3 separate regions of the Homo sapiens genome follow, and all the other regions are linked to region 3. The links come from fine-mapping of genetic effects on gene expression. A gene starts in region 3. Each other region holds a variant in brackets. All regions are shown on one strand. Distances are from middle to middle.

Evidence for each region. PIP is the estimated chance that this variant, and not a neighbour inherited with it, causes the effect. A credible set is the group of variants that fine-mapping cannot tell apart.
Region 1: its variant is the best candidate, but not a certain one, in a credible set for the expression of MTRES1 in CD4 T cells (BLUEPRINT, PIP 0.81).
Region 2: its variant is the best candidate, but not a certain one, in a credible set for the expression of MTRES1 in unexposed skin (GTEx, PIP 0.68).

The regions. Positions count from the first base shown.
Region 1 is chr6:107,052,307-107,059,709 of GRCh38, reverse strand. No RefSeq gene overlaps it. Among named protein-coding and RNA genes, the nearest start is that of MTRES1, 28 kb to the right of the region's middle. The variant T/C (reference allele first, on the strand shown) is at 4,657.
Region 2 is chr6:106,995,441-107,002,843 of GRCh38, reverse strand. No RefSeq gene overlaps it. Among named protein-coding and RNA genes, the nearest start is that of CD24, 24 kb to the right of the region's middle. The variant C/T (reference allele first, on the strand shown) is at 3,382.
Region 3 is chr6:107,023,714-107,031,116 of GRCh38, reverse strand. MTRES1 (mitochondrial transcription rescue factor 1) reads right to left here and starts at 2,918. Exons shown (of 4, transcript NM_016487.5): 1 at 2,846-2,918. RefSeq lists enhancers at 2,200-2,299, 2,410-2,519 and a silencer at 2,630-3,099.

The DNA of each region.
Region 1 (7,403 bases), 29 kb before region 3:
CTGGTATAGCTTGTGCTCTTTTTGACACAGGGTATTAGACATGCCTCTCCTCCTTGGTTTTGACAAGCTGAAATCTTAGCCCAGGCACAGTTCCATGCGTAAAGAGGCATATACTTCAGCATAGGTAAGGAAGGCCCTAGTGATGGGTGCCTTCTCCTCAGGTAGTTCATGCTGATTGCATTGCTTACGTCCAAAGAGTTGGCCACTATCATTTCAGCCCCACCTTTCATTTGTCTGTCTTAGAATCAAGAATTAAAGGATTTAAGTAAAATAAGGGTTACTAAAAAAAAAAAAAAATTAAGGGATTTCTCCTACAATCCTAACAAAAATTCTACATGCATTCTGTGAAGAAGCATCTAATAGTGACTCCTCTGAGTGAGACTCCAGAAGAGAGTCCTTACCGGACCTCTAAACAGAAATTCTCCATTTTAGACACCTGTGGTCCGGCCTTGACTGTGGTCTTTAGGATTTCACTTGTCTACCTTAGGGAAGGTCTCATCAACTTTAAGAATAAAGTTGCATTGGCCAGGCGTGGTGGCTCATGACTATAATCCTAGCACTTTGGGAGGACGAGGCGGGTGGATCGCCTGAGGTCAGGAATTCCAGACCAGCCTGGCCAACATGGCGAAACACCATCTCTATTAAAAATATAAAAAATTAGCCAGGCGTGGTGGTGGACCCCTATAATCGCAGCTATTCAGGAGTCTGAGGCAGGAGAATTGCTTGAACCCAGGAGCCAGAGGGTGCAGTGAGCCAAGATCGTACCAAAAGGCAGAAGCAGCAGGCTGTGAGGCTTGTGTGTATAAGAAAGATGTTATGCTGGGCGCGGTGGCTCAGCATCCATACAGAATCCCAGCACTTTGGGAGGCTGAGGCAGGTGGATCATGAGGTCAGGAGTTCGAGACCAGCCTGACCAACATGGTGAAACCCCGTCTCTACTAAAAATACAAAAATTAGCTGGGCGTAGTTGTGCGCACCTGTAATCCCAGCTACTCAGGAGGCTGAGGCAGGAGAATCGCTTGAACCCGGGAGGCAGAGTTGCAGTGAGCTGAGATCATGCCACTGCACTCCAGCCTGGGTGACAGAGCGAGACTTCATGTCAAGAAAAAAAAAAGGAGAAAAAAAAGTTATGAGGAGTTCATGTTAAAAAATAATCTCTTTACGGCTGGGCGCGGTGGCTCAGGCCTGTAATCCCAGCACTTTGGGAGGCTGAGGCGGGTGGATCACGAGGTCAGGAGTTCGAGATCAGCCTGACCAACATGGTTAAACCCCATCTCTACTAAAAATACAAAAAAATAGCTGGGCATGGTGGCGGGCACCTGTAATCCCAGCTACTCAGGAGGCTGAGGCAGGAGAATCATTTGAACCTGGAAGGCGGAGGTTGCAGTGAGCCGAGATCGTGCCATTGCATTCCAGCCTGGGTGACAGGGCAAGACTCTGTCTTGAAAAAAAAAATACAAAAATTAGCTGGGCGTGGTGGCAGTCACTTATAATCCCAGCTACTTGGGAGGCTAAGGCTGGAGAATCCCTTGAGCCCAGAAGGCAGAGGTTGTACTGAGCCGAGATCGCACCATTGCACTCCAGCCTGGGTGACAAGAGTGAAACTCTGTCTCAAAATAATAGTAATATTAATCATCTCTTTACACCTGTATTATACTGGCAAAAATTAGAAAGCTGAGTAATGCCAGGGGCTGAGGTGATGGGTCTAAGGCACTCTCCTGTGGGAAAGCAGCCAGTGCAGCCATTCTGGTGGATAGAAGTGCTATGTTATTTGTCGAGAGGAGAACTGGGTACAGTTTGGGACAGTGTCACTGGGAGCATGGGTAAGCAAAGTGCATGGTGGATGCACTTTGGTCTTTATCCTGCAGCAGTGAGAAGCAGTGGATTCAATGTACCCATAATGCCATGAATGGATCTTAAAAAACATCCTGAACATGCAAGAGGAAATATAATAATGCCATTTGTAAAATTTAAAATATATGGACAGAACAGCAAAATATGTTTTACAGGAGCATACACCATCACCCCGAACTGAAATGTTTTCTTCCAGTTTCTTTCTTTTCTTTTCTTTTCTTTTTTTTTGAGACAGAGTTTCACTCTTGTTGCCCAGGCTGGAGTACAATGGCACGATCTCGGCTCACTGCAACCTCCGCCTCCCGGGTTCAAGCGATTCTCCTGCTTCAGCCTCCCGAGTAGCTGGGATTACAGGCGTGCGCCACCATGCCCGGCGAATTTTTTTGTATTTTTAGTAGAGATGGGGGTTTCTCTATGTTGGTCAGGCTGGTCTTGAACTCCCGACCTTAGGTGATCTGCCTGCCTCTGCCTCCCAAAGTGCTGGGATTACAGGTGTGAGCCATTGCACCCGGCACTTCCAGTTTCTTGAAAGCCAGTAATGTTTCTATCTCCTCCCCAACGACTATTGCCCAAATAAACCATGACTTTAAAATTATCCCCCAGGCCGGGCGCGGTGGCTCACACCTGTAATCCCAGCACTTTGGGAGGCCGAGGCGGGCAGATCATGAGGTCAGGAGATTGAGACCATCCTGGCCAACATGCTGAAACCCCGTCTCTACTAAAAATACAAAAATTTAGTCAGGACTTGGAACATCTTTATGAAACAGAGAAACATGAAAGCAATTCATAAAGATTTATGGAGCTCTTGGAACTCATTACTAGACCCAAATGATAACTGCCTTTTAATGTGGTCCTGGCAAGGCTTCCTCAGTGAAAAATGTGACCAACATATGAAAAGATTAAAGAAAAAAATGTCTAATGCAGTGGTTCTCAACTGGAGATGATTTTTCCTGCTGGGGAAGTTTGGCAATATCTGGAGATATTTTTGGTGGTCATGACTGAAGAGGTGCTGTGGGCCTCGTGTAGGTAGAGGCCAGGCATGCTGCTGAACACCCTCCAATATACAGGACAGCAAATACCTATCTGACTTAAAATGTCAATAGTGCTGAGGTTGAGGAACCCTGTTCTAATTAGGGTGACAAGGAAGAATTGTGTTTTTGTTTTGTTTTTTGAGATGGAGATTCGCTCTTGTTGCTCAGGCTGGAGTGCAGTGGCATGATCTCTGCTCACTGCAAACTCTCCCTCCCGGGTTCAAGTGATTCTCCTGCCTCAGCCTCCTGAGTAGTTGAGATTACAGGTGCCCGCCACCACACCCAGCTATTTTTTTGTATTTTTAGTAGAGACGGGGTTTCATCATATTGGCCAGGCTGGTCTCAAACTCCTGACCTCAGGATCACCCTGATCCACCCGCCTTGGCCTGCCAAAGTACAGGAATTACAGGAGTGAGCAACTGTGCCCAGCCAGAAATTTTCTTTTTTTTTTTTTGACGGAGTCTTGCTCTGTCACCAGGCTGGAGAGCAGTGGTATAATCTGGGGTCACTGCAACCTCCGCCTCCCGGTTTCAAGTGATTCTCCTGCCTCAGCCTCCTGAGTAGCTGGGACTATAGGCACGTGCCACTATGCCCAACTAGTTTTTGTATTTTCAGTAGAGACCGGGTTTCACCATGTTGGCCAGGATTGTCTTGACCTCTTGACCTCATGATCTGCCCGCCTCAGCCTCCCAAAGTGCTGGGATTACAGGCCTGAGCCACTGTGCTCGACCCCAAATTGTTTTTTTTAATCTAAGATATAGTTCTTGCTTTCCCAGGAAAGTCTGAAAATATTGCTAGTGTCTGCAGTTTTTAAAGGATGAAACAATTTAAAGTTATGACTTTTGGAAGAGGACTATCCAGCCAGCTCTTCTTCTTCTTTTTTTTTTTTTTTTTTTTTTTGAGACGGAGTCTCGCTCTGTCGCCCAGGCTGGAGTGCAGTGGCGCAATCTCGGCTCACTGCCAGCTCTGCCTCCTTGGTTCACACCATTCTCCTGCCTCAGCCTCCCAAGTAGCTGGGACTACAGGCGCCCGCCACCACGCCCAGCTTTTTTTTTTTTTTTTGTATTTTTAGTAGAGATGGGGTTTCACCGTGTTATCCAGGATGGTCTCGATCTCCTGACCTCGTGATCCGCCCGCCTTGGCCTCCCAAAGTGCTGGGATTACAGGCGTGAGCCACTGCACCTGACCCCAGCCAGCTCTTTTACCAGTAACGGTAATCCTTTCAAAAGAAACAGATCTCCTGTAGGAAACATGGTGCTAACTGCATTTCCCTGCCAAACAGCATTTACTATAACTTGTTAGCTTGAAAGTAGGGAAAAATAAAAAGATAATAAAAAAATTTTTTTAAAATAGCATTTACTAGTTTCCCTGGAAATTTACATAGATGGGTAGGCAATAGTTTATTATTTTTAACATTTTTTTTAAAGTAGACATTTGGGGGATAATATTATTTTATTCATTTTTAAAAAAATTTTTATTTTTTTTGAGACAGAGTCTCGCTCTGTCACCAGGCTGGAGTGCAGTGGCGTGATCTCTGCTCACTGCAACCTCTGCCTCCTGGGGTCAAGCGATTCCCCTGCCTCTGCCTCCTGAATAGCTGGGACTACAGGCGCCCGCCACCACACCTGGCTAATTGTTTTTTTGTGTTTTAGTAGAGACGGGGTTTCACCATGTTGGCCAGGATGGTCTTGATCTCCTGACCTTGTGATCTGCCCGCCTTGGCCTCCCAAAGTGCTGGGATTACAGGCGTGAGCCTCTGCACCTAGCCCCC[T/C]TTTTTTTTTTTTGAGATGGAGTCTTGCTCTTGTCGCCCAGGCTGGAGTGCAATGGCACCGTCTCGGCTCATTGCAACCTCCACCTCCCGGGTTCAAGCGATTCTCCTGCCTCAGCCTCCCGAGTAGCTGGGATTACAGGCACCCGCCACCATGCCTGGCTAATTTTTGTATTTTTAGTAGAGATGGGTTTTCACCATGTTGGCCAGGCTGGTCTCGAACTCCTGACCTCAGGCTATCCACCCGCCTTGGCCTCCCAAAGTGCTGGGATTACAGGCATGACCCACCATGCCCTGCCATTTTTTTGATTTTTAATAGAGATGAGGTTTCACTGTGTTAGTCAGGCTGGTCTCGAATTCCTAACCTCAGGTGATCCGCCCACCTCGGCCTCCCAAAGTGCTGTGATTACAGGCATGAACAGTGCCTTTGTTTTTTTTAAAAAACAGAAGGTTTGAATGGGCCAATGAAACCCTCCCAAGCAGCTAAGTTGAGGTACTAATGACCAATAGAACTTCAAAAAGCCTTTCAAATGGCCCTGTTTTCTAGCTACTGTCAATGCATCTTACCTCATACTACTCATTTTAACTTTCTTTTTTGAGACACAAGATAGAACAATCAGTACCTTAGGCCAGGCGCGGTGGCTCACGCCTGTAATCCCAGCACTTTGGGAGGCCGAGGCGGGCGGATCACGAGGTTAGGAGATCGAGACCATCCTGGCTAACATGGTGAAACCCCGTCTCTACTGAAAATACAAAAAATTAGCCAGGCGTGGTGGTGAGTGCCTGTAGTCCCAGCTACTCAGGAGGCTGAGGCAGGAGAATGGCGTGAACCCTGGAGGCGGAGCTTGCAGTGAGCCGAGATCGAGCCACTGCACTCCATCCAGCCTGGGTGACAGAGCGAGACTCCGTCTCAAAAAAAAAAAAAAAAAAGAACAATCAGTACCTTGATCCCCATTTGACCAGTGAGGAAACCAGCTCAGAGAGGTTAAGGTGAAACTATGACCAAGATAACCCAGTGTACTAATGGCAGGACTGGGCCTGAATGCCAGGACCCCTGACATCACTAGATTGTGCTGCCCTCACCAACCAGGGTTTCGTAGATTTTCTGATCACTTTCCAAAGAGAAGTCCAGAGATGGGAAGGAAGGGGGGAGGGGGAAGGTAAAGGGGAGGTGGGAGGAAGGAGAAGATGAGAAAAGATATGGGCATCTAATTTCCTAAATTATAATTCAGACCAGGTGTGGTGGCTCATGCCTGTAATCCCAGCACTTTGGGAGGCTGCGGTGTATGGATCACCTGAGGTCGGGAGTTCAAGACCAGCCTGGCCAGCATGGTGAAACCCTGTCTCTACTAAAAATATAAAAAAATCTGGGGGGCATGGTGGCAGGGGCCTGTAATCCCAGCTACTTGGCAGGCTGAGGCAGGAGAATCTGAACCCAGGTGGTGGAGGTTGCAGTGAGTCGAGATCACACCATTGCACTCCAGCCTGGGTGACAGAGTAAGACCTCGTCTCATTAAAAAAAAAAAAAAAAAAAAAAATCATAAATAACGCGTGGAAATTAAGCTACTATTTTTACTGATGACTCAAGAAAGCCAAATTCACAAATGGTAAAATAGAAAACCCCCCGTTACACTGCATAGTATATATTATTTCTTTCTGAGAGTTTAACTTTTCAAATAAAAATCAATTTTCTTGAGTCTTTTGAAAAACAAGCTGGTAGGCCATGTGCGGTGTCTCACGCCTGCAATCCCAGCACTTTGGGAGGCTGAGGCGGGCAGATCATGAGGTTAAGAGATTGAGACCATCCCGGCCAACAGTGGCAAAACCCTGTCTCTACTAAAAATACAAAAATTAGCTGGACTTGGTAGTGTGTGCCTGTACTCCCAGCTACTTGGGAGGCTGAGGCAGGAGAATCGCTTGAACCCGGGAGGCAGAGGTTGCAGTGAGCCGAGATCACGCCACTGCACTCCAGCCTGGTGACAGAGCAAGAGTCCGTCTCAAAAAAAAAAAGAGAAAGAAAAACAAGCTGGTTAACAGTTCCAGACACATGAGCCCAAACATCCCACTGCTTTGGGCTATAGAAGTTTCTCTTCACTGACAGTTAAGGATTCTCAGGAGTTCCTGGGGGACAAATAAGAGCCCAGATACAGGGTCTTTTTTTTCTTTTTTTTGAGATGGAGTCTTGCTCTTTTTGCCCAGGCTGGAGTGCAGGGGCGCGATCTCTGCTCACTGCAAACTCCGCCTCTCAGGTTCAAGCGATTCTCCTGCCTCAGCCTCCTGAGTAGTTGGGATTATAGGTGCCTGCCACCATGCCCAGCTAATTTTTGTATCTTTAGTAGACATGGGGTTTCACCGTGTTGGCCAGGCTGGTCTCAAATTCCTGACCTCAAGTCTCAGCCTCCCACAGTGTTGGGATTACAGGCGTGAGCCACTGCGCCTGGACCAGCCAGTCTTTTCGATGTGACATAATCTAACAAGTCTCTTATTGGAGGTGATCTCTCCAAGTGCCAGGAAACAGCTCCTGGGAATTTATAGCCTGGCCTACTCATCCGCAAGTCCTTTCTTAGATGACGTACATTATGTGTGTGTCTACCCCGCCACACTACTCTGCTAAGCCTTCATCCATTTTATGACACTTTGAGAATTAGAATTGGTTTTATTCTCTTCATTGATAAAACAGGTATGTTTGCTTTCACCCGAAAATTAAACCCTTACCTATTACTCTAAACTAGGGGTCAAAAAACTTTTTC
Region 2 (7,403 bases), 28 kb after region 3:
AATAACATACACTAAGTCATATCAGAAATATAGGAGTTTTTTTATAATTTTGCAACATATACTAATAACACATTTATACAAATACAGCCCCAAGTAAGCAAAACACCATTTCATATTTGATAATGCTTCCTGTATGATTTTTATACCAAATAAGCCAAATATCACTGTTGCATTAGTGCATTATTGATGTCAAACTCAATTCTTGATAAAACGTTATAGATAAATGTAGCCAATTTTATTTAGTTTGACCACAAGGTAAGATTTTCATAGCCTTTTATAACCCTTTACAACTTTTGTTAAAGAGCAGATCATAAGCAGGTTTTTGTCTAAGAAAAACCTGTTGTGCTTTTATTCCAATGTTTAATTTACAGAAAAACTGAATACCCCTTTAATTTTAGCCAATATGTTCACACACAGAATTTTTTTTTACATTTAATTTTTTTCGCAAATCTCTCATAACTTGTTTAAACCTTTAGATTTTTCCTATCTCACTCAAAACAATTCTTTAACCCTTTAATCTAGGCAAAAAAAAAAAAAAATCCACATTCCCATGACTTCTTATCTTTTACCAAAAACACACTTCACTTTTTTTTTGTTTTGAGACAGAGTTTCGCTCTTGTTGCCCAGGCTGGAGTGCAATGGTGTGATCTCGGCTCACTGCAACGTCCACCTCCCAGGTTCAAGCAATTCTCCTGCCTCAGCCTCCTGAGTAGCTGGGATTATAAGCATGCACCACCACGCCCGGCTAATTTTGTATTTTTAGTAGAGACGGGGTTTCTCCATGTTGAGGCTGGTCTCGAATTCCTGACCTCAGGTGATCCGCCCGCCTTGGCCTCCCAAAGTGCTGGGATTACAGGTATGAGCCACCGCACCCGGCCACATTTCACTTTTTCTATACACCTTGCACGTATAACTTTTTTTTTAGTAGTCCCAAATATATGTTACACTGTTAACTCTTAGCAACTTTTACTTTTGGTGAAAACCTTGGTAAGTTCAGAATTTTTTTTTTAGACGGAGTCTTGCTCTGTTGCCAGGCTGGAGTGCAGTGGCCCGATCTCAGCTCACTGTAACCGCAGCCTCCCGGGTTCAAGTGATTCTCCTCCCACAGCCTCCCAAGTAGCACCACCATGCCTAGTTAAATTTTGTATTTTTAGTAGAGACAGGGTTTTACCATGTTGGCCAGGATGGTCTCAATCTCTTGACCTCGTGATCCACCTGTCTCGGACTCCCAAAGTTCTGGGATTACAGGCGTGAGCCACTGTGCCTGGTTGAGTTCAGATTTTTAATTATGTGCTAGGTGTGGAGCCTGTGACAGTAGACAGAAGTGCAGATAAGGTCTGACTCTTTTCGTTGTCTAACTTCATGTGTCCCAGGCCTTATCTAGCTGTAAAGCAGGAAAGTTGTACAGTTAAGAGTCCTAATGGCATTTTATGAAGCATTTAGGAGACCCAGAAACCTTTAACTTATATATTTCTTGCATAAATTCCCTTTTTTAAAGCAATCAGTCATTTTACTTTAGGACAAGTATTCACCATACAACATCCTTTCTTATACAAAATTTCTTCTTTTATTTCTTTTCTTTTCTTTCTTTTTTTTTTGAGACAGAGTCTTGCCCTATCGCCCAGGCTGGAGTGCAGTGGCCCGATCTTGGCTCACTACAACCTCCACCTCCCGGGTTGAAATGGTTCTCCTGCCTCAGCCTCCTGAGTAGCTGAGATTACAGGTGCCTGACACCACTCCCGGCTCATTTTTGTATTTTCAGTAGAGATGGGGTTTTGCCATGTTGGCCAGGCTAGTCTAAAACTCCTGACCTCAAGTAATCCACCCTCCTCGGCCTCCCAAAATGCTGGGATTATGAGTGTGAGCCACCACACCCAGCCTTAAAATCTTTTCTTTATAACCTTCTTTGCATAGCTAGGGGGCATGGCTAATTCCACATATCCTAGTCTTTATTTAGAATCTAATGCTCCAAAGTAGGTAAATTGAACAATTTTCAAAAGACAAAGAAGCACTTTATGACCTTAAAGCATTTAGTAAACTTAATATCTGACTTGCATAATTTAGACCAAATGCTTACTTTTTTTTTTTTTTTTTTTTTTTTGAGAGAGTCTTGCTCTGTCACCCAGGGTGGAGTACAGTGGCGCGATCTCGGCTCACTGAAACCTCCACCTCCTAGTGCAAGCAATTCTCCTGCCTCAGTTTCCCGAGTAGCTCGGACTACAGATGTCCACCACCACGCCCGGTTAATTTTTGTATTTTTAGTAGAGACGGGGTTTCACCATGTTGGCTAGAATGGTCTCAATTTCTTGACATCGTAATCTGCCCGCCTCACCCTCCCAAAGTGCTGGGATTACAGGTGTGAGCCACCGCGCCTGGCCGGGAGTTTCTTTATTCCATTTCAGCAGGGCCAGAGATGTCCATGAAGGCCTTGGTGTGTGATGGAACAGACAGTTGTCTAAGGGGTGCACAATGAATGCAAGTTCTTCCCATCTCCGAGTCAAGGGTTTTCTGGGAAACAGTAGGGGATAACAACTTTCATAAATTTATACAATTATATACACTGAATTTATACGATTATGTACGTATATAATTATGTACATATTTGATTGTGTACACTGAGAAGATTAAGCCAACTCTTTCAAACTCATGGAGTTTACTTCTTGAAATTGAAAGGCCTCAGAGATAAGCCTCAGAACCAAGTTCCCTCTCTTGACTTTTCCCAGCTTTTCTGTCTCTTTGTTTCTCTTTCTTTCCCAGGAACTCTCTCTGGAATTTCCTTATCTGACTAACAAAGCTTCTTTCCAAAATAAATGCAATTATTTTAAGACCCCTCTCTCTAGGAACCTCATCAGATAGCCAGGAATGATCAACTACCCGAGAATAGAAGAGACTGGGAGTCATCACCATACCCAGATAGACTTTCCATCTATTTTTATTTTATTATGTAAATTTTAAATTATTAGTAAAAAAAACCTTTTTTTTTGAGACAGAGTCTTGCTCTGTTGCCCAGGCTAGAGTGTGCGATCTTGGTTCACTGCAACTTCTGCCTCCTGGGTTCAAGCTATTCTCCTGCCTCAGCCTCCCAAGTAGCTGGGATTACAGGCACCTGCCACTGTGCCCGGCTCATTTTTGTATTTTTAGTAGAGATGGGGTTTCACCATCTTGGCCAGGCTGGTCTCGAGCTCCTGACCTTGTGATCCACCCGCCTTGGCCTCTCAAAGTGCTGGGATTACAGGCGTGAGCCACCGCTCCCGGCCAAAAAAAATTTTTTTTGAGACAGCAGCTCACTCTGTCAACCAGTGTGGAGTACAGTAGCGAGATTACAGCTCACTGCAGCCTCTACCTTCCAGGGTCAAGCAATCCTCCTAACTCAGCCTCCAC[C/T]ACTTCAGCCTCCAGAGTAGCTGGGACTACAGCTGTGTGCCTGGCTTTTGTGTTTGTGTGTATGTGTGTGTGTGTGTGTGTGTGTGTGTGTGTAGACACAGGGTTTTGTCATGTTGCCCCGGCTGGTCTCAAACTACTGGGCTGAAAGGGCCCTCCTACCTCAGCCTCCCAAAGTGCTGGGTTAAAGGTGTGAGCCACTGTACGCAGCCTTCAACTATTCTTCTTCTTTTTTTTTTTTTTTTGAGACGGAGTCTCCCTCTGTCACCCAGGTTGGAGTGCAGTGGCTTGATCTTGGCTCACTGCAACCTCCAATTCCCAGGTTCAAGTGATTATCCTGCCTCAGCCTCCCCAGTAGCTGGGATTACAGGCACTTGCATCCACACTGGCTAATGTTTGTATTTAGTAGAGACAGGGTTTCCCCATGTTGGCCAGGCTGGTCTCAAACTCCTGACCTCAGGTGATCTGTCCGCCTCGGCCTCTGAAAGTGCTGGGATTGCAGGGGTGAGCCACCGAACCAGGTGGAGCTTTTAACTATTCTTCTGACAGCAGCCCTGAGAGATTGCCTGGGAGACTTTATCTGCATAATAAGACAACATTGATGGTCTGGGCGGTGGCTCATGTGTGTGTGTAATCCCAGCACTTTGGGAGACTGAGGCAGGTGGATCACCTGAGGTCAGGAGTTTGAGACCAGCCTGACCAACATGGTGAAACCCCGTCTCTACTAAAAATACAAACATTAGCCGGGCGTTGTGGTGCGCACCTGTAGTCCTAGCTACTGGGGAGGCTGAGGCAGGAGAATTGCTTGAACCCGGGAGGTGGAGGTTGCAGTGAGCCAAGATCATGCCACTGCACTCCAGCCTGGGTGACAGAGTGAGACTCTGTCTCAAAAAAAAAAAAAAAAAAAAAGAACACTTGTTCACAGTAATAGTCCACCCCTCACCTTCCTGCCGCCTTCCCCAGTGCTCAAAGGAACTTTGTCCCCAGCCATCGTTCTTTGGCTCATTCATTTCCTTTGGAAATCATTTACTCCTACAACCCCTGTCTCCCTTTCCCCATGGAGAAGAATATAAGCAGCCGGGCCTCATCGGGTTACTGGGTAATCATAGTCTTGTGATTTTCTTCTATGCACATTAAGTAAATTTCGTATGCCTTTTTCTCCTGTGTATCTGCATTTCATCAGTTTATGCTCTGCAAACCTTCAGTGGGCAGAGAGAAAGCTTTCCCTCTGCCCCCAGTGTGGCAACAGGCCTGACTGGGGCAATGCTGCTGCCTTGCTTTTGACGCCCCCCACACACGACCGCGTCCCCCTTTCTGCTCTGTGGAACGCCTCCAGCCCCTGCTGAGGCTGGCTTGCCCATGGCAGAATGTCACCTCAGGTTGGGGGCCTTTCAAAATGCACCCCAGAGAGCTCTCCTGGGAGCCCACGTCTGGAACGTAGAGCTGAGTGTCTCTGGCTGACGTTGGAGGATGGGCAGGCTGCCCATGATGCAGCCCCTTTCCTGCTCTGGCACAGCCTTGACCTTTAAATTTCTCATTCTTTTTTCTTCTTCCACTAAACTCTAAGAGATAAGTGTTTGTCTCTCCCGTTATTCCCCTAAGAGCACCTCTCACTGGACTGGGGTGAGGAGAAAGCGCCTTTGCTCTGCAGTTCCTGCAGGGGGCGCTTGGCACCTCACTTTGGAACCTGAGAACTTGTTTTGTTGAAGGCCTTTGAGCTTCGGTTGAAATGGAGACAGAAAGGACTTCCATGTTCACATCCTGTTACACTCTCCAGCATAAATATGATCATTTTCATTTTACAGGAGGCTCAGAAAGGCAAGTCTGTGGTGGAAGTGGGTGAGCTGAAATCTGAGCTCAGGTCTGCTTGATCCTGTAGGTTACAGATGAGACAGAAATGATATGCCCTGTTGTACCCAGGGTGGCCACATCTGAGGCTCTAAGACAAATAAAAAATTACCACCATAGTGGAAAGATTAAATTCTCATGTACAACCAAATCAAAGTCTTCATATACAGTTAGAATAAAACACAAATTTCAGAAGAATGACCCACATACGTGTCGGTTTATTAGTGAGTGAAGATGTGTTTTAGAAACTGGTTATATAAATCAAAAAACTACCATCGAAGGGCTCTAAGATTAGCCAGGAGGCTTAATAGTATCCTAATTTAAGAGTTACTTGAAGATATTTTCTAAGATTGCTGTTTCTGTTGAGATATAAAATGGCTCTTAGCCTAGGATGTTAATAAATTCAAGATAAAGTGAGTAGGCGGAGTTAGAGTAAAAGGTGGCCTTCCTCTCATTGTGCTTGGATTCTGGTGGTTCCTGTGTAGAAATTCATTTGCTGAGGACTTATTATGTACTAGGCACTTTACTAGGTACTGGGGAAAGGAAGATGAACATGATGTGGTTCCTTTCTTTAAGGAGCTCAGCTGGTGAGGAAAAAGCTGCAATCCCTGTTACACGTACAATGACAGAGGAAAGCTTGGGGACTTGGGGGATGCAGGGGTGGACACTTCAGAAAGGCCCTAACCAAGGCTGAAGGGTAAGGGATGGCTTTCCAAGGAGATGACACTAATCTGGGTCCTGAGAAATGCATAGAAATCATCCAAGCAAAGAAAGACCTTGGCTTGCGTTCTTCCTTGTGTTGTGCTGGGCCCCCAAACAGGCAAACTGGGAAGGCACAGTCACCGAGAGACCGAAGAAAAGACCTGAAGACAGTGGGTAAGACATAGAGTTTAGGGCGGGCATGGTGGCTCACACCTGTAATCCCAGCACTTTGGGAGGCTGAGAGGGGCAGATCACCTGAGATCGGGAGTTTGAGACCAGCCTGATCAACATGGAGAAACCTGGTCTCTACTAAAAATACAATATGAGCTGGGCATGGTGGCGCACGCCTGTAATCCCAGCTACTCAGGGGGCTGAGGTAGGAGAATCACTTGAACCCAGGAGGCAGAGGTTGCAGTGAGCCAAGATTGTGCCATTGCACTGCAGCCTGGGCAACAATAGTGAAACTCCATCTCAAAAAAAAAAAAAAAAAAAAAGACAGAGTTTATTCAGGGGACTTATGTATGGAGTGTCCAAGAGTGGAAGGCTGGACAGGAGTTCCACTGCCTTTTGTGGAAAGCATGCAGGTTAGTAGGAACTCCCACACAGCAACCTCTACTTAGCAACCTCCACCTAGCTTAAAACAAAGGCCATTGATTTATTTTTTTTTCTTTTTTTGAGAAGGAGTCTTACTCTGTCTCACAGGCTGGAGCACAGTGGTGCCATCTTGGCTCACTGTAACCTCTGCCTCCTGGGTTCAAGCGATTCTCATGCCTCAGCCTCCCGAGTAGCATGGTGGGCACGTGCCACCATGCCCGGCTAATTTTTGTATGTTTTTTAGTAGAGATGGGGTTTCACCATGTTGGCAAGGCTGGTCTCGAACTCCTGACCTCAAGTGATCTGCCTGCCTTGGCCTCCCAAAGTGCTGGGATTACAGCCGTAAGCCACTGTGCCCAGCCTAGGCCACTGGCTTCTTGTATGACTTGTGTTCCAAGGAACGAGGCCAGGGTCCAGGTGTTCTTCATGCCCCCATCTGTGTCCCTGCTCTGAGCCTTCACACCTTCATAAGTACAGCGTAAACATCCAGGTTGGCCTCTCCCAGAGTCCATAGCTCAGAACAGTGAACAAACATTCACCAAAGAACATAGGGTCAGCCATGTATGGCAGCTCATGCCTGTAATCTTAGCACTTTGGGAGGCTGAGGCAGGAAGATCATTTGAGCCCAGCAGTTCAAGACCAGCCTGGGCAACACAGTGAGACCCCTGTCTCAAACAAACAAACAAACAAACAAACAAACAAACGGCCTGGTACAGTGGCTCACACCTGTAATCCCAGCACTTTTGGAAGCTGAGGCAGGCAGATCACCTGAGCTCTGGTCTCATTCGAGACTAGCCTGGGCAACATGGTGAAACCCAATCTCTACCAAAAATACAAAAATTAGCCCAATGCGGTGCTGTGCACCTGTAGTACTGGCTACA
Region 3 (7,403 bases):
TGAGCCACTGTGCCCGGCCCTCCCTGATATCTTAAAGTTGGAGCGGCCCAGGGCTCTATCTTTGGTCCTCTTCTCTTCTACATTCACTTTATCCAGCTCAGCTCTTAAATGTACCCAATTAGTTCTTACAAATGCATTATCAAGACATCAATCATTTCTGTGGCTTTAAATACCACCTATATGCCAACCACACCCTAATCTATATCCCCATTCCAGAACTTTCTCCCAAATTCCAGACTCGTACATCTGTGCAGAAACGAGTTAACATAACAGGCCTGAGACTGCTATCCTTAGAATGCCTGCTTGCAAAGTTGGCCCTTGGCTAGTGTCTCAGAACTTGAACTTCACGAGGGTTCCCACAATTCCCACCTGGATAAGAGTGGCTCACTGTGCTGGAAACTGTACAATGTGATTCTAAACACCTGCTTTTTTTCTGGGCGGCGGAAATTTTGGCACATTCTAGGCAGACAGTGCCTATGTGACTTTTTATTGGAAAAATGAGCTCTACAAGCTTTCCTGATAGATCTCTCACGTCTTGTCATAATTTGATGCTGCAAGAATTAAGCATACCCCATGTGACTCCACTAGGAGAGGACTCTTAGAAGACTGCACCGGGTTTCCTCCAGACTGTGTCCCATGCATCTTTTCCCTTTGCTTATTTTGCTTTGTATCCTTTTGCTATAATAAATCACAGCTGTGAGTATGACTACGTGCTGAGTCTTTTGAGTCCTCTTAGTGAATCAATGAACCTGGGGACCTGCAACACAATAGCTGCCTATTTGACACCTCCACGTGGGCACATAATAAAGTCATTCATACGATGTCACTCCTTTCCTCAAATCCCTACCAAAGCACTCAGAGAACAGCAAAGTCTCTACGATGGTCTAAAGGCTCTATAGGATCTGGTGCTCCCTCAACCCCCATTTCCTCTCCAACCTCATCTGCCAATTTGACTCTTGCAAATTCAGCTTCAGCAACACTGGCATCCTCCCCTTAATTAAGCACTTACCATGTGCCAAGCACTAATCTGGGCACTAGGAATTCAGCAGAGGAAAAAAATACGAAGATTCCTATTCTTGTAGAGTTTATAGTCTAGTAGGGGAAACAGGTAGACAAAAAAAAAAACACCCTGTAAATTATATGATAGCTGGTGGTTAATGCACTGGGGGAAGAAAGTGGAGCAGGGTAAGGGGGATTGAGAGGGCAAGATGAGGTCAGGCAGGTGGCTCACGCCTATAATCCCAGCACTTTGGGAGGCCAAGGCAGGAGACTCGCTTGTGTCCAAGAGTTTGAGATCAGCCTGGGCAACACAGTGAGATCTAAAATAAAAATAGTATGGGCGCGGTGGCTCATGCCTGTAATTCCAGTACTTGGGGAGGCTGAGGCGGGCGGATCACTTGAGGCCAGGAGTTCAAGACCAGCCTGGTCAACATGGTGAAACCTCGTCTCTACTAAAAATACAAAAATTAGCCAAGCGTGGTGGTGCACACCTGTAGTCACAGCTATTTGGGAGGCTGAGGCTGAAGAATCGCTTGAACCTGGGAGGGGGAGGCTGCAGTGAGCCGAGTTCACACCAGTGCATTCTAGCCTCGGCGACAGAGCGAGTGTCAAAAAAAAAAACAACAAAACAGGCCGGGCGCGGTGGCTCACGCCTGTAATCCCAGCACTGTCGGAGGCTTAGGCGTGCGGATCAGGAAGTCAGGAAATCGAGACCATCCTGGCTAACACGGTGAAACCCCGTCTCTACTAAAAATACAAAAAATTAGCCGGGCGTGGTGGCAGGCGCCTGTAGTCCCAGCTACTCGGGAGGCTGAGGCGGGAGAATGGCGTGAACCCGGGAGGCGGAGCTTGCAGTGAGCAGAGATCGCGCCACTGCACTCCAGCCTGGGCGACAGAGCGAGACTGCGTCTCAAAAAAAAAAAAAATAGCCGGGTGTGGCGGTGTGCGCCTGTAGTCCCAGCTGCTGGGGAGGCTGAGGCAGGAGAATGGCGTGAACCTGGGAGGCGGAGCTTGCAGTGAGCCGAGATCCCGCCATTGCACTCCAGCCTGGGCGACAGAGCAAGACTCCGTCTCAAAAAAACAAAACAAAACAAAACAAAACAACACCCTGTGGAATAAAAATTGATCAGGAGGACGGGTGCATTCGAATGAATCAGGAAAAGAACACGCAATGATGGACCCTGGGAAGTGACCTGATGGAAGTTCATTTTAAAAGATCTCTTTGGCGTTGGTGTGGGATGAGTGGAGAGATGATCACGGCAGAATCCCATAGGAGGTTTTGGGTGACATCTTCAGGAGAGGTATACAATCTGAACTAACCGAAGACTGTAAGAAAAGCAGTGTCTGTAAAAAAAGCAGCGCTGACTTTGACCTGCTTGACGCCAGGAAACGCTCCACATTCCTGAGCCCGTTCACCGCTCCGTAAGATGGAGAAACTGGTCTAAACGCTTTGAAGTCTAATGCAGCTAAAGATCCTTCCCTTTACTTGGAGACCTCGGAGGCTGTGGGCTGAGACAGGGTCGGATTCCTCTCGCTCCCTCCCCACCCCCGCGGGCAGTGCACCTTCCTGGGTCCCCAAGGTCAAAGGAAATGGACAACTGCGTCCCCGGGTTCGCAGTCTGCATTCGGAGCCAGCAGGAGCGACAGGAGGCAGGAACGGAAGGCTTCGCCGCGCTCAATTACCACAGTCCCTGCGCAGCCCTGAGCTCGCGGGGCGTCCCGAGGCTGGCAGGACACGGGACACTCACGGGGAGACCCGGCGGGAGCGTGGGCGGGGCGGAGAGGCGAAGTGACAGGGGGCGCGGGCAGGGGGCCCGGCGCGGCGCGCCAGCAGAGGCGCACTCACCTGTACGTCAGGCCCTCTCGTCCCTCCCCGCGGCCGCGCGGACTGCAGGCCTCCAGGCTACCCCTATCTGCGCCCCGCCCCTTCCGCCGGCGCCGGCGCAGTGAGAGCGGGTCGGGCGGGGCGCGAGGCCAGGGCGGCAGCGAAGCAGCGACCCCTGCTGGAGGCCGCGTCTTGGAGGACTGCGCGGGAAGTAGGCTCGGGGCACACCATTCTCCCGGGTTCACGCCATTCTCCTGCCTCAGCCTCCTGAGTAGCTGGGACTACAGGCGCCCACCACCACGCCCGGCTAATTTTTTTGTGTTTTTAGCAGAGACAGGGTTTCACCGTTTTAGCCAGGATGGTCTCGATCTCCCGCCCTCGTGATCCGCTCTCCTCGGCCTCCCAAAGTGCTGGGATTACAGGCGTGAGCCACCGCGCCCGGCCATCTTAATTCTTTTTTCTTTTTTTTTTTTTTTTGAAACCGAGTCTCACTCTTGCCCAGGCTGGAGTGCAGCGGCGTAATCTCAGCTCACTGCGACCTCCGCCTCCCGGGTTCAAGCGATTGTCGTTCCTCAGTCTCCTAAGTAGCTGGGACTACAGGCGTGAGCCACCATGACCGGCTAATCATCTTAATTATTAATGAAGTGATCCTTTCTCTGGGACCACTAACCCCTTTGAACATTTTTTTTTTTGACAGGGTCTCACTCTGTTGCCCGGAGTGCAATGGTGCGATCTCGGCTCACTGCAACCTCTGCTACCCAGGCTCAAGCTGTTCTCCCCACCTCAGCCTCCCCAGTACCTGGGACTCCAGGTGTGTGCCACCACGGCCTGCTAATTTTTGTTTTGTTTTGTTTTGTTTGTAGAGATGGGGTTTCGCCATATTGCCCAGGCTGGGACTCAAGAGAAGCGATCTTCCAGCCTCAGCCTCTTAAAGTGCTGGGATTACAGGTGTAAGCCACCGAGCCCGCCCTCTTTGAACATCTCCAAGAGATATAGGCGTTGTTTCCAGAAAAATGTGCAAATACGTCAGACTCGCAGTTTAAGGAAACATCTTTTCAAGACCAACGCAATTTACACGTGAGCCAATTCCCCTTTCCCTCCCAACCAACTATCCATCCATTCGTCCATCCATCCATCCATCCATCCATCCATCCCTCTCTCATTAGGTCTGTCTGTGGAGAACTCTGACTCATACACCAAACAAGATGTCACCCTGCAACATTCTAACAAAACTTCTAGTCAAAGTCACAGATGACCTCTGCAATGTAAATCCAAAGGTCTGGTCTCATTCCTCAACTTACTTGAGTTATAGGATACCCCATTGGTTTCACCTACCTCACTTGCCACTTAATCTTCTTCCCTGTTTTTTCTTTTGTTTTGTTTTGTTTTTTTGTTTTTGAGAATGAGGCCTGCTCTGGCCCCCAGGCTGGTGTGCAATGGCATGATCTCTGCTCACTGCAACCTTCACTCTCGGGTTCAAGCGATTCTCCTGCCTCAGCCTCCTTAGTAGTTGGGACTACAGGTACGCACCACCATGCCCGGCTAATTTTTGTAGTTTTAATAGAGACAGGGTTTCACCAATATTGGCCAGGCTTGTCTCAAACTCCTGACCTCAAGTGATCCACCTGCCTTGGCATCTCAAAGTGCTGGGATTACAGGCATGAGCCACCACTCCCAGCCAGCTGTTTTTTCATTACATCCTTAGAATGCCAAAGAGTAAGTGCCCCATACTTAGACCTCTAATCTTTTTCCTTTTTATCTATCCTAGTTCCCCAGTCGATCTCCAACAATTTCGTGGCTTTAAATATTATCTATATATGGACGATCCTCAAATTTGTATTGCGAGCCGAGATCATTCTCTTGCATTCAAGACTACAACTGCCTACTTAACATCTTCACTTGGAAATCTAACGGAAATCTCAAACTTGATAGGACCAAAACCCAGATCCGGGTCTCAATGCGTTCCTCCCACAGCATTCCTTATTTCAGTTAATGAGTCTTCCACCCTTCCTGTTACTTAGGTCAGATATCTTAGAGATACACTCAATTTCTCCCTTTCTGTCTCACCTGGGATTAGAGGCGTGCACCACCACACCTAGCTAATTTTTGTATTTTTAGTAGAGATGGGGTTTTACCATGTTGGTCAGGCTGGTCTCAAACTCCTGACCTCAGGTCATCCACCGCCTCAGCCTCCCAAAGTTCTGGGATTATAGGTGTGAGCCACCACGCCTGGCGGCTTACCTTTCTTCAGGCTATCCTCAGGACAATAACCAGAGTGATCCTATTAAATCACAAATCAAATCCTGTCATTACTTAAAATCCTCCTGGGCTGGGCGCGGTGGCTTATACCTGTAACTCCAACACCTTGGGAGGCCGAGGCGGGCAGATCATGAGGTCATGAGTTTGAGACCCGCCTGACCAACATAGTGAAACCCTTTCTCTACTAAAAATACAAAAATTAGCCGGGCGTGGTGGTGTGCGCCTGTAATCCCAGCTACTCAGGAGGCTGAGGCAGGAGAATAACTTGAACCTGGGAGGCGGAGGTTGCATTGAGCCGAGATCGCGCCACTGCACTCCAGCCTGGGTGACAGAGCGAGACTCCATCTCAAACAAACAAACAAACAAACAAACAAAAAACCAAAAACCCAAAACCATCCCAGGCTACCCACCTTATGTTACAGTTAAAGCCAAAATCCTTTCAATGGCTGGTGAGGCCTTCTGCATCTGAACTCACCTACATTGCTGACCTCATCTACACTACTGACCTCATCTCCCACCACCTTCCTCCTCCCTCTCTGGGTTCAGCCATACTTGCCTCCTTGCCATTCCCGGATGAGGTCCCTGGAAACCTCAGATGATGTCTTGCTTTAGGGCTTTTGCACACTTTCTTCCCTCCATCTGGAATCCTCTTCCCTCAGCTGACCACGTGATTTGTTTCCATACTTCCTTCAGGTTTTCACACAAATGTCATTTTCTAAGTGAGGCATTCTCTTAATTATACTATTTTAAATTAACCCCCTACGTGATGGCATGTGTCTCTAGTCCCAGTTACTCAGGACTCTGAGGCAGGAGGATTGCTTGAACCCAGGAGTTTGAGACCAGAAGGATCAAGAGAATATTTTTGATCCAGCCTAAAAAAATTATTAAATGTCCTAAAATTTTTCAATTTTTCTTCACAACACTAATCACTATCTAATATGTTTCCCACTTATTTAACTCTTCTGTCTACTCCCACTAGAATGTGAGCCCTATCAGGGTAAAAATCATGTTTAACGTACTGCTGTATCCAATGCCTAGAACTGTGACTAGCACATAGTAGGTTCTGAATAAATAAGAGTTGTTTGAGAATGGAATAAATCTACATGTACAGAGATATGCACTGCAGCTTTATTTGTATGATACTAAAAAATGAAAACAACCTGATTTTCCATCGGTGTAATTATTTATTTAATTATTTTTTTGAGACAGGGCCTCACTTTGTCACCTAGGCTGGAATACAGTGGTGCCATCTTGGCTTACTGTAGCCTCGAACTCCCAGGCTTAAGCAATCCTCCCACCTCAGCCCTCTAATTGTTGTATTCTTCGTAGAGATGGGGTTTCACCATGTTAGCCAGGCTGATCTCGAACTTCAAGCCTCAGGTGATCTGCCCGCCTTGACCTCCCAAAGTGCTGGGATTACAGGCGTGAGCCACCAGACCTGGCCCCATCAATGTTTTTATTTATTTTTATTTCATTTTATTTAACTTTTGAGTTGGAGTCTCACCCTGTTGCCCAGGCTGGAGTGCAGTGGCCCAATCTCAGCTCACTGCAACCTCTGCCTGCTGGGTTCAAGCAATTCTTCTGCCTCAGCCTCCTGAGTAGCTGGGATTACAGGTGCCCGTCACCATGCCCAGCTAATTTTTGTATTTTTAGTAGAGGCAGGGTTTCACCACGTTGGCCAGGCTAGTCTCCAGTTCCTGACCTCAGGAACAGGCACTCCAGCCTGGGCAACAAGAGGGAAAATCCGTCTAAAAAAAAAAAAAAAAGGCCGAATGCAGTAGCTCACACCTGTAATCCCAGCACTTTGGGAGGCCGAGACGGGCGTATCACGAGGTCAGGAGATTGAGACCATCCTGGCTAACACAGTGAAACCCCATCTCTACTAAAAATACAAAAAATTAGCTGGGCGTGGTGGCGGGCGCCTGTAGTCCCAGCTACTCAGGAGGCTGAGGCAGGAGAATGGCATGAACCCGGGAGGCAGAGCTTGCAGTGAGCCGAGACTGCACCACTGCACTCCAGCCTGGGCGACAGAGCAAGACTCTGTCTCAAAAAAAAAAAAATTTCCAGGGGACAAACTTTCATAAAGTTTTATACATGTTCACGGGAATGTATGCTATATTAAATTAGAAATAAGGCCCAGCGCAGTGGCTCATGCCTGTAATCCCAGCTCTTTGGGAGGCCGAGGTGAGTGGATCACCTGAGGTCAGGAGTTCGGGACCAGCCTGGCCAACATGGCAAAACCCCATCTCTACTAAAAATACAAAAATTAGCCAGGCATGGTGGTGCACACCTGTAGTCCCAGCTACTTTGGAGGCTGAGG